2 separate regions of the Homo sapiens genome follow, and region 1 is linked to region 2. A link means that fine-mapping ties the variant in region 2 to the plasma level of a protein whose gene starts in the linked region. Region 2 holds a variant in brackets. A gene starts in the other region. All regions are shown on their forward strands.

Region 1 (4,390 bases), not on the chromosome of region 2:
TCTAGCTAAAAAGAAAAAGTGACTTATTCAGGACTGACTCCCCCTGCCAGTCCCAGGAAACAGGAGCAGCCCGGCGCGCCCGGGAGCCCCGCAGCGCAGTGCGCACTGCGGCTCCAGAGCGAAGGGCTGGCGCCCGCCAGATTCTAAACGTGCTCGGCTGCCGCAGCCCGCCGGGGCCGCGCGCCGTGGTCCGCGCGACTCCGCGCTCCGGGTTTCCGCGGTCACCAGCACTGGCGGAAGAGCCCTGCCGAGAGGGGACAGCCGCGGGCGGTGTCCCGGGAGTCCCGAGAGCGCGCTCCCCCTTTGCGCAACCTTCCCGAGGCGTCCTGCCCGGGAAGCCAGTTCCTGGGTTCTGGGCTGGCTAGGTTGGCAGCGAATGAGGCTTAGGCATCACTGCCTGAGGCCCTCACTTAGCATGTCGACAGCCACAGACTTGTCTGGCGGAGTTTCTCCTGGTGCCCACTTAAGTAGTCTCAAGTTTGTTCAAAGCTGGACTCCTCGACTTGGAACCAGGAGCAGCTGGAGATTTGTCAATTTAGAGCTCATTTGCCACGGGAGACGCTCTTGGTGTCCCCAGCACCGAAGGGTAGGTCAACTCTACAGTTTTCCTGAACATGATAAGGTGTGTGAAGACGCTGTGCAAATTGTACAGCGCTCTGCTTAAGGAGAACCTCGATCTTCATCTCGCCCCCAGAACTTCCCTCCCTTGAAAATAAAACTCCCACCTGAATGTAAAGCCCAGGAGGGGGTTTTGTTAACCGCACTTATTCCCAAAGCATAAAGGAATGTCTAATAGTTTTGCAAATGCTTCCATGAATAATTGTTGAATGAGTTCATGTACAACATACACACTTGAGGAAAACTGGTCTGGTTGGGAACATCTGGGAATTCTCCTTGCTTTTCTGGTAGGGAAGCGACCGACCAAACATTTATTGGGCACTACTCCTTGCCAAGCCTTCTAGGCTTTGGCAGGCCAATGGGGAGCCGGGGGGAGGGCTGGCAAACCTGTTAGTTGTTCAAGGACACAAAGGGGGCTTTATAAGATGGCCTAATCAGAGCCCTTAAACGTGGGTTCGCAAAATGGTTCATTCCCGCCCTTTCACCCACCCCCTCCCACCCCAGACGCAAAGCATATGTTAAAAACACTTAAGTGCATACAGAAGGCGCTTGGCTCAGGGTACACAGGGCAAGAAGCCTCGGATCCCAGCTCCCTTTAACACACATTTTTTCAACGCCGTTCTGGACCGAGACTGTCCGGGGCACTGGGTGCTGCAGGACCCGGCTCCCAGTACTCCTAGCAGAAGACCCTCTGATGAAATGGCCCATGACAAAATGACCACCATAACCGTTCCTTCAGTAAGCCAGGTAGACGTGCTCACAGCTTGCTGGGAAGTCTTCTTTCGGAGATTTCTGCAGTTTTCTCCTTCACCTTACAGCCTAACAAAGGGTGGGCCGGGGGTCGGCTAGGACAGAAAGCAGCGGGAAAAGCGGCTCCACGTGTTCCATCTCTGGCCTCGGCCTTCAGCCCCCAGGTTCGGTAACCACTGGGCGTGGCGAGTCCGGGTAACCCGCAGTCCCTCGCGCCCGTCCAGGTGCGGGTTGCTCCGGTAGCCGGACTCCCTTTTCCTATATACTTTCCTTTTGAGCTTTTGCTAAAATCTGGAGACGTGGAATCCACCCGCGGAAACTCCGAGCCCCTCCGACTGAGCATGCGCCATCGCCAGGCGGCTTTTGGTCACAGGCTCCCGAGTTCTCCTAGCTGGGGCTGCGGAGCTGGGGGGAGGGAAGAGAGGAAAGGGGAGGGGGTGCCTGGAGAGGCGGAGGCTCGCGCGCCTGCGCATCCAGCTCCAGGGACCCTAGGTTTTCTATGGGATTCCCAATCTGCAGCAGAGATTTACCCGAGCGTGTTGCGGCAGCGGCTGGGCTTGCAAGGCGCGATCCAAGAGGGATTTAAGCAGCCCAGAGCTCCAGAGAAAAAGAGAGCGAGAGAGAACCACACACAGAGACGGCTTAAGCGTTTACCCGAATTAAATATATATTTTTAAAAAGAACTGTTGAGTTTTATCATTTTCGTTAAGTGACCGTGCGCAGCGCTGTAACTGTAAGTGGAAAATACAATCTTCGTTGCATTTCTGCATGTGTAGTGCAACCAACTGTCAGAGAAATGCTTTGGCTATTGTCACATACTTTGCTTTGCATAGATGCGTCTAAATGCATGGGGACAATTTCCTTGCTTAATGCTGGCGATCTGAATGTGCTCTTAGTCCATGGGGGATCTTTTGGAATATTGGGGGTGGGGGAAGGGGGAGTGTTTATATGCGGCGTGTTTGGGGGATTGTCTTAGACTAGATTTAAGACAGGTGAAACTGAGATGCTTTCTTAGTTTGTCTTAGACAGATTTAAGTAGCTAATTGACCGATTGTGAAGTTTTCCGGTTGCTGATAAAACTATTGAGCGGGTACAGTCGAGTAGCAACCTGTCATCCGTGGGATTGGTGCACCATTTTTCTCACTGTGGAAGGGCAGCAAAGGTGTTTGCTAAGTAAAACTGAGTGGATGAGATTGGTATGGAAATCATGGTTGATCTCTGAGCGGGATGTTAGTGTTTAAGATCCACGGAGTCAGGCGCAAAATGAGCACATTTCTCTCAGTATTCAGAAATGAGTAGATAATTTTTTTCGTCTTTGATTTTTGTCACAATGGTGAATGGGCAGAAAAGGGAAAGATGCTCTACTGCACTGTCGATTTTGAACGGAGTCACAGGCTCGGTCGCTGAATGGGGACTGTCAGACCCAAACTAGTTACCTGCCTTTGCATTCCGTGTTCGCCATCCGGAATCTGGGGTTAAAAAATGTAAATCAAGGTGTGTTACATTTGGTAGTATTTCTTTAAAGGATAAAAGGTCGTTTTGTGTTTTGAGTTAAAATGGGTTGTTCCTTGCCCAGAAACTGGAAGAAGGGTCTTTGCAAGGTCAAACCCCGGGTGGAAATCAGAATGATGAATACCCTCAGGGGTACAAGAATGTGTACGTGGAAGGAGCGAGGAGAGGCTGATGCTCCCTGCATGGTGGAAATGATGAGTGCTCCGCATTGCCTGATCAGTGCCCTGTGAGATGCCAGAGTGGGAATCCATTTTTCTAGAGTTGCCCTCCTGTCCGTATTTTGGAAACTAAAATAAAATAGAATTGTTGGTGGTTGTGGAGAACACTAAGTACATACTATTTGTGTATCACTTTCCAGTTGAAGGCAAGAAAAGCTGGGGAGTTTTATTTCTACATATTAATATTTATTTTAATTTCTAAAGGAATTTCAGGTTGAGACAAATTTAAAATGAAACTCTTGTGAAAACACATTTTACCCCCACTATCATTTAAACTGCCTACGTGTGTTTGTGTGTGTGTGGTGGGGGGGAGTAGGGGGTGATCCTACATCATTGAACAACTTACTTTTGAATGCACTCTCATTAAGCCTTGGGTATTTAATAACCCCAGAAAATGCTGCACTGAAGCAGGTTGGCAGAATGGGCATGAGGCAGAAAGATGAGAAAAAAGCATGGCTAGTGCGTGCTGGATTTCCACGAAATAAGCAAATCCAATTTTGGGGATGAAATGAAATAAATTTTCCCTCAAATCGGGTGTGGGGGCCATCAAATAGGGCTCTTTGGCCCTTTGATCAGTCCAACCATTTGGAACCCCTCAAAGGAATTTATAATTTATTTAAATGGATGAAATTTGTAATTGAAAATTCGAGAAGAACCTCTCATTGGAAATCCACAGTATAAATCATACTGCCTTGTCTATTCCTTCTTTCCTTACTCCAGGGCAGAAGGACTAATCATTTGTCATAATTGAGCCATACTCCCTGTCATCATTGAGCATTGGCATCAGTTCGATGAATGGTGCAGGTGTTGACACTGCATTGATAAAGAGGGGTGGTAGAGGAAAAAGGGGGGAATTAGGTATCAAAACTGATAAATGCTTGGTCTTGGAGTCCCTGGCTCATAGGTTGACAGAGAGGATCAAGTTAGGCAGAGACCCTGTAAGGTATCTAGTCCAAACCCCTTGCTTTGTAGATGAGGAAACTGAGGCCCAGAACCATGGATGTAGAGAAAAGTCAATTAACTTCTAGTCTATGGAATAAACAATTAAAAAGTAATGTTGAGTGGAAATGTTTCCTTCTCTCTTTCATTTTCAGCAGTCTCAGTGACATTGCTGCAGACTTCAAATAAATAACTGTCTGCTCTCCAGCACATCTTTTGAAATTGTCTCTAGGGGTCCCTTTTATACCACCTCATTTCTCTTCCTTGCCTCTCTTTGTCTTGTAAGGTCTCTTTCTCTCTCTTTTTTATTGCCCCTCACCTCTAATATCCCCACCTCTTTGGATGTTTAGTCT
Region 2 (4,390 bases):
AGTGGGGGCATAGCTTGGGGGTAGAACATTTGACTGCAAAATAACATATACATTGGTAAGGTTTAGAAAGACACAAAACAATCTACAGGGTTGGTCTTATAAATAAGTCTGTGGCTTATTGTCCCTAAAAATGATATAAGACTCCCTCTTTGTCAGCAAAATCTCACCTTATTTGTCATATACAAAACTATAAGACTAAATGTTTGACCTAGAAGAGTTGTTAGAGAGATCTGGTGGAGTGAGTGGCTAATGAGTGGGGTCAGGGCTAGCGCTGGGCCCACTCTCAGTACCTCCCACCACACTGCTCCTTAGCATTATCCAATGATTAGTTCAGATCGCCTTATTCTGCTGGAAGTGTTAGGGAACTCTTGAGTCTATTTGAATGTTGTGTTTACTCGAAACATTGATTGTAGCATGAAAGTTGACCATATTTAACAAATATAAAAAATTGTAGTAGTTTCTCACTACCAAGGTGAAAATGATTGCTTTTGGGGTGGAAACCTGTTATAAAATAAAACAATGTTTAGACAACTACAAAAATAAAAACTTTCAGCCAAGCACAGTGGCTCACATCTGTAATCCCAGCACTTTGGGAGGCTGAGGCAGGTGGGTCACCTGAGGTCAGGAGTTCGAGATCAGCCTGGCCAACATGGTGAAACCCCGTCTCTACTAAAAATACAAAAATTAGCTGGGCATGGTAGCGCACGCCTGTAATCCCAGCTACTCCGGATGCTGAAGCAGGAGAATCGCTTGAACCCGGGAGGCGGAGGTTGCAGTGAGCCGAGATCACGCCGCTGCACTCCAGCCTGGGCTTAACAAGAGTGAAACTCCGTCTCAAAAAAATAAATAAATAAGTGAATAAAATAAATAAAAATAAAAATAAAAACTTTCTAAATTACTTGATATCTTTCTTAATGTCTCCTAGAAAAGTGTATAGAGAACCTTTTTGGTAGTAAATAAAGATCACTTTAATAGAGAAATTTTAAACTACAACACATCCTATATTCACAAACTAGTACATCTCAGCTGTTCCGTGGATGTGGTGGGATAGGATAATAGTCCAGAAAGGTCTCAAAGTCTGAGGTAGTTGCTGGAAGAAGAAGCCTATTTCTTTGGACACCTGACTTACGAGAGGGTCAGGCTGAACTAGAAGGAGGTTTTACGGTCTGAAGTTTTAGGGCCTCCACTGTAAGTAGCAGCCGCAAAACTATAAGAGGGGGAGAAATTACCCATAATTCCACCACGCTAACACATTAATTGCCTTCATTTCCTCTGTTCACTTTTAGTTCTTAATTTTATGCCATCATTTCATGAGGCTATAAATACAGCATAGTTAAAATGCAGCATTCTTTCACTCAACATTATATTGTGAACGCTTTTGTCTGAGGACTATTCTGGTTGCAAGGAAGATTTACTCAGTCAAGTTAAATTGTCTCAGAAAATAGTTGTGTGTACGTGCCTAATCTTAGAGAAACCAAGGACAGGCGCCTAAGCTGGCTAAGCTCCCCAGGAATTGGTGCTAGGGCAGGGAGAGCCAACAGCTACTGAAGCTGCTGTCGGGGGCCTTGGGTGGGCGGGGGGATCTCTGCTTACCCTGCGTTTCTGTTCCGCACACATCACTTCAGTAGTGCATGGCCGGTAGTGGCCACTACAAGCCACATGACCTTGCAGTACCAGAGCTTTCAATGATCCTCTTTCCAGACTGCTTAAAGTCAAACTCTTATTTGATTGTCTCAGTTTATCATTTCCATCCAGCGAGGCCATAGAAGTCAGAGGTTTCTGTTCAGCCTGTGGATTGGCTGTTGCTAGCTCAGGTGGACACATATTGGTCCAATCAGGGGTGGCTGGGGAGGTAGAGCCACATGCTTTAGATTCTAGCTCTGCAGGGCAGTGAGGCCGTGCGCTGGGACCCCCCTACCTCCCCCGGCAGTGAGTGTGGCTTCGTAGTTCTTACAACTACAAATGTTCATGAACACATGACATCACATCAAGTGGCTGTTTCATGATTTATGACCCTTCCTCTGCTGTTAGCTTTAGTTTATCGCCCCTTTCAGCTTGGGGACGGCTACAATAAAACTATGAACATTTTTGGGCATACTTCTTCCTTTTCATCTTCCAGATTATATAAAATAATCTTTAAATTCCATAGATTACATTCTCTGAGCACCTCCAGAACAGAAAACATAACCTTGCAATTTTTTCTTGTTGTCTAAAAAGGGTCTGTATTTGCTAGAGATTTCTACTGAAGTCGCTATGGGCAAAATAATAGGATGTGATACGTGGGATCTGCTTCAAAGCACTTTAGGAAAAAAGTTAGGGGGTGCTGAAAGC[TGAA/T]GCAAGATTGATGAAATCTCTAGCAAATACACTTTTTAAACAACAACAAAAAATTGCAAGGTTATGTTTTCTGTCCTGGAGGTGCTCAGAGAATGTAATCTCTCTGGAATTTAAGATGATTTTATATTTTATATATACTGCTGGAGCTGATGATGGGTGCGTGAGATTTATGATACACTTTGCCTCTGTTTTGTGGTTTATGTCCTACTTCCTTTCTCTTTCTCTCCCCTCTGGATTTTTTTGTTGTTAGTCCCCATGTTTCCTCTAGACATTTGGTACTCACATACTGCCCTGTGATTCCCCCAAATTTTTCTCAGGTTCGGTTACCCCTGACACCTGCCTCATAAATTCCTTTTCCTTCCTTACCAAAAACTCCAGTCCATTTGTCTATCTACCTATTCAGTAATTCATTCACATAAAAAAAAATGAACCTATGTGTTGGTCAAGACATGAAAAATGTTGCAAAATATAGTGACATTCATTGTTTTAGATGTTACTAGACAGCTATGAAGAGGAACGAAATCACAACTTATTTTGTAGCCTGAGATAAAAGCCAGCTCCCCAGAGCAACACTCAGGAATAACTGTCTTTCAGCAGAGGAGCCAAATGCCCTCTGGCGGGGGGCGGTGGGGCCAGTGTGTCAGAGTGTAGGGTGTGGCCGCAGGCAGAGCCCAGGAGAGGCCCTCCTCCCTCCATGCCCACCTCCTCCTCACTGCCTTTTTGCTAACGGCTTTCAGCCTTTTGGGATTTAGAATTGGAAGCTATATTCTGAGGTCGTATTTATTTAGTTAAATGAAAATTGTATATATTAAAATCCTTGGGATTTTTGTAATCATTAAAGCATCAAAGAGACTCGAGTGCTCCAGAAAATGAACATTTCATATTCATGCTAAGAAAGCAAAAATCTAATGAAATGGCTGAATTTTCTATTCATTTCCCAAAACATTAGTAAATTGTCAGTTATGTGAGCTAAGTTAAATTACAGGGCGATCATTCTGAGGTCTTTCTGGTTTTACAAGTCACAATGTTAAAAAACAAACTCAAGGAGGTTTTTTTTGTTTTTGAAATGGAGTCTCGCTCTGTCATCCATGCTGGAGTGCAGTGGCGCAATCTCGGCTCACTGCAACCTCCGCCTCCCGGGTTCAAGCGATTCTCCTGCCTCGGCCTTCTGAGTAGCTGGGACTAAAGGCGCCCGCCACCACACCTGGCTAAGTTTTGTATTTTTAGTTGAGACAGGGTTTCACCATGTTGGGCAGGCTGGTCTTGAACTCCTGACCTCAGGTGATCCACCCGCCTTGGCCTCCCAAAGTGCTGGTATTACAGGCATGAGCCACCGCGCCCGGCCACAAAGACGTTCTTGAGACCTGTTGGTCCTGGGAAATTGGAGTGCTCATAGGTGTAGCTGCACAACCCTACTGCCCACCTGTGTCTGGCAGGGGTTGGGACTTTCCTGGAGCTCCCTGGCACCCTCTGTGTGCCTCTGCCTTTGCATTCTTCACCTTGGATTATAACGGCATCTTTATTTGTTTCTCCCTCACTAGACTGTGAGCTTCTGTGGGAGGACAGGGATTCTGTATTTTTCAATGCCTGGAATGCGATTGGGCTTCCGTAAATATCAGTTGAATGAAAGACAACATATATATATGTATTTTTTTCCTTAAAAGAAACTCCCTATGTTCTTCCTCATAGATTCTCCTCTTCCTTACATAAACCCCTAGATGGGTTCATTCTTCAGCCTGGCTCTGAAGACCCGAGGAGAAAGTAAACACTTCAAAGAAACTGCCCCACAGGGACTCCGAACGCCCAAGTAATTCACCCTGAAAGCAGCATCTACTCCAGAACGGGGGCATCTGGATTCAGGTCACCCAGAATACGCCTTTGCCATCAGCTTCCCCCACTCCAGAAACAGGATTGTTACCTTTAAATGAGGACAATTCAGTGCTTGGTTTTTTTCAACATAACTGCTTAAGGATTTTTTTTTCTGTTTTTCTTTTTAGAGGCAGGGTCTTGCTCTGTTGCCCAGGCTGGAGTGCAGTGGTGCCATCATAGCTCACTG

Which allele goes with the higher level. Alleles are on the strand shown, and positions count from the first base shown. The strength of an association depends on the size of the effect and on how common the allele is.
In carriers of allele TGAA in region 2, the plasma level of the protein whose gene starts at base 1,879 in region 1 tends to be higher than with T alone (strong association).

Evidence for each region. PIP is the chance, under the fine-mapping model, that this variant and not a neighbour inherited with it causes the effect. The UK Biobank Pharma Proteomics Project read protein levels with antibody pairs (Olink). The fine-mapping took linkage between variants from a reference panel, not from the people measured, so its PIPs are less certain.
Region 1: VSNL1 starts here. The variant in region 2 is fine-mapped to the plasma level of the VSNL1 protein (UK Biobank, PIP above 0.99).

What each region holds. Positions count from the first base shown.
Region 1 is chr2:17,538,818-17,543,207 of GRCh38, forward strand. It overlaps VSNL1 (visinin like 1), which reads left to right and starts at 1,879. Exons shown (of 4, transcript NM_003385.5): 1 at 1,879-2,101. RefSeq lists an enhancer at 184-303.
Region 2 is chr3:195,564,036-195,568,425 of GRCh38, forward strand. No RefSeq gene overlaps it. Among named protein-coding and RNA genes, the nearest start is that of APOD, 18 kb to the right of the region's middle. The variant TGAA/T (reference allele first, on the strand shown) is at 2,332.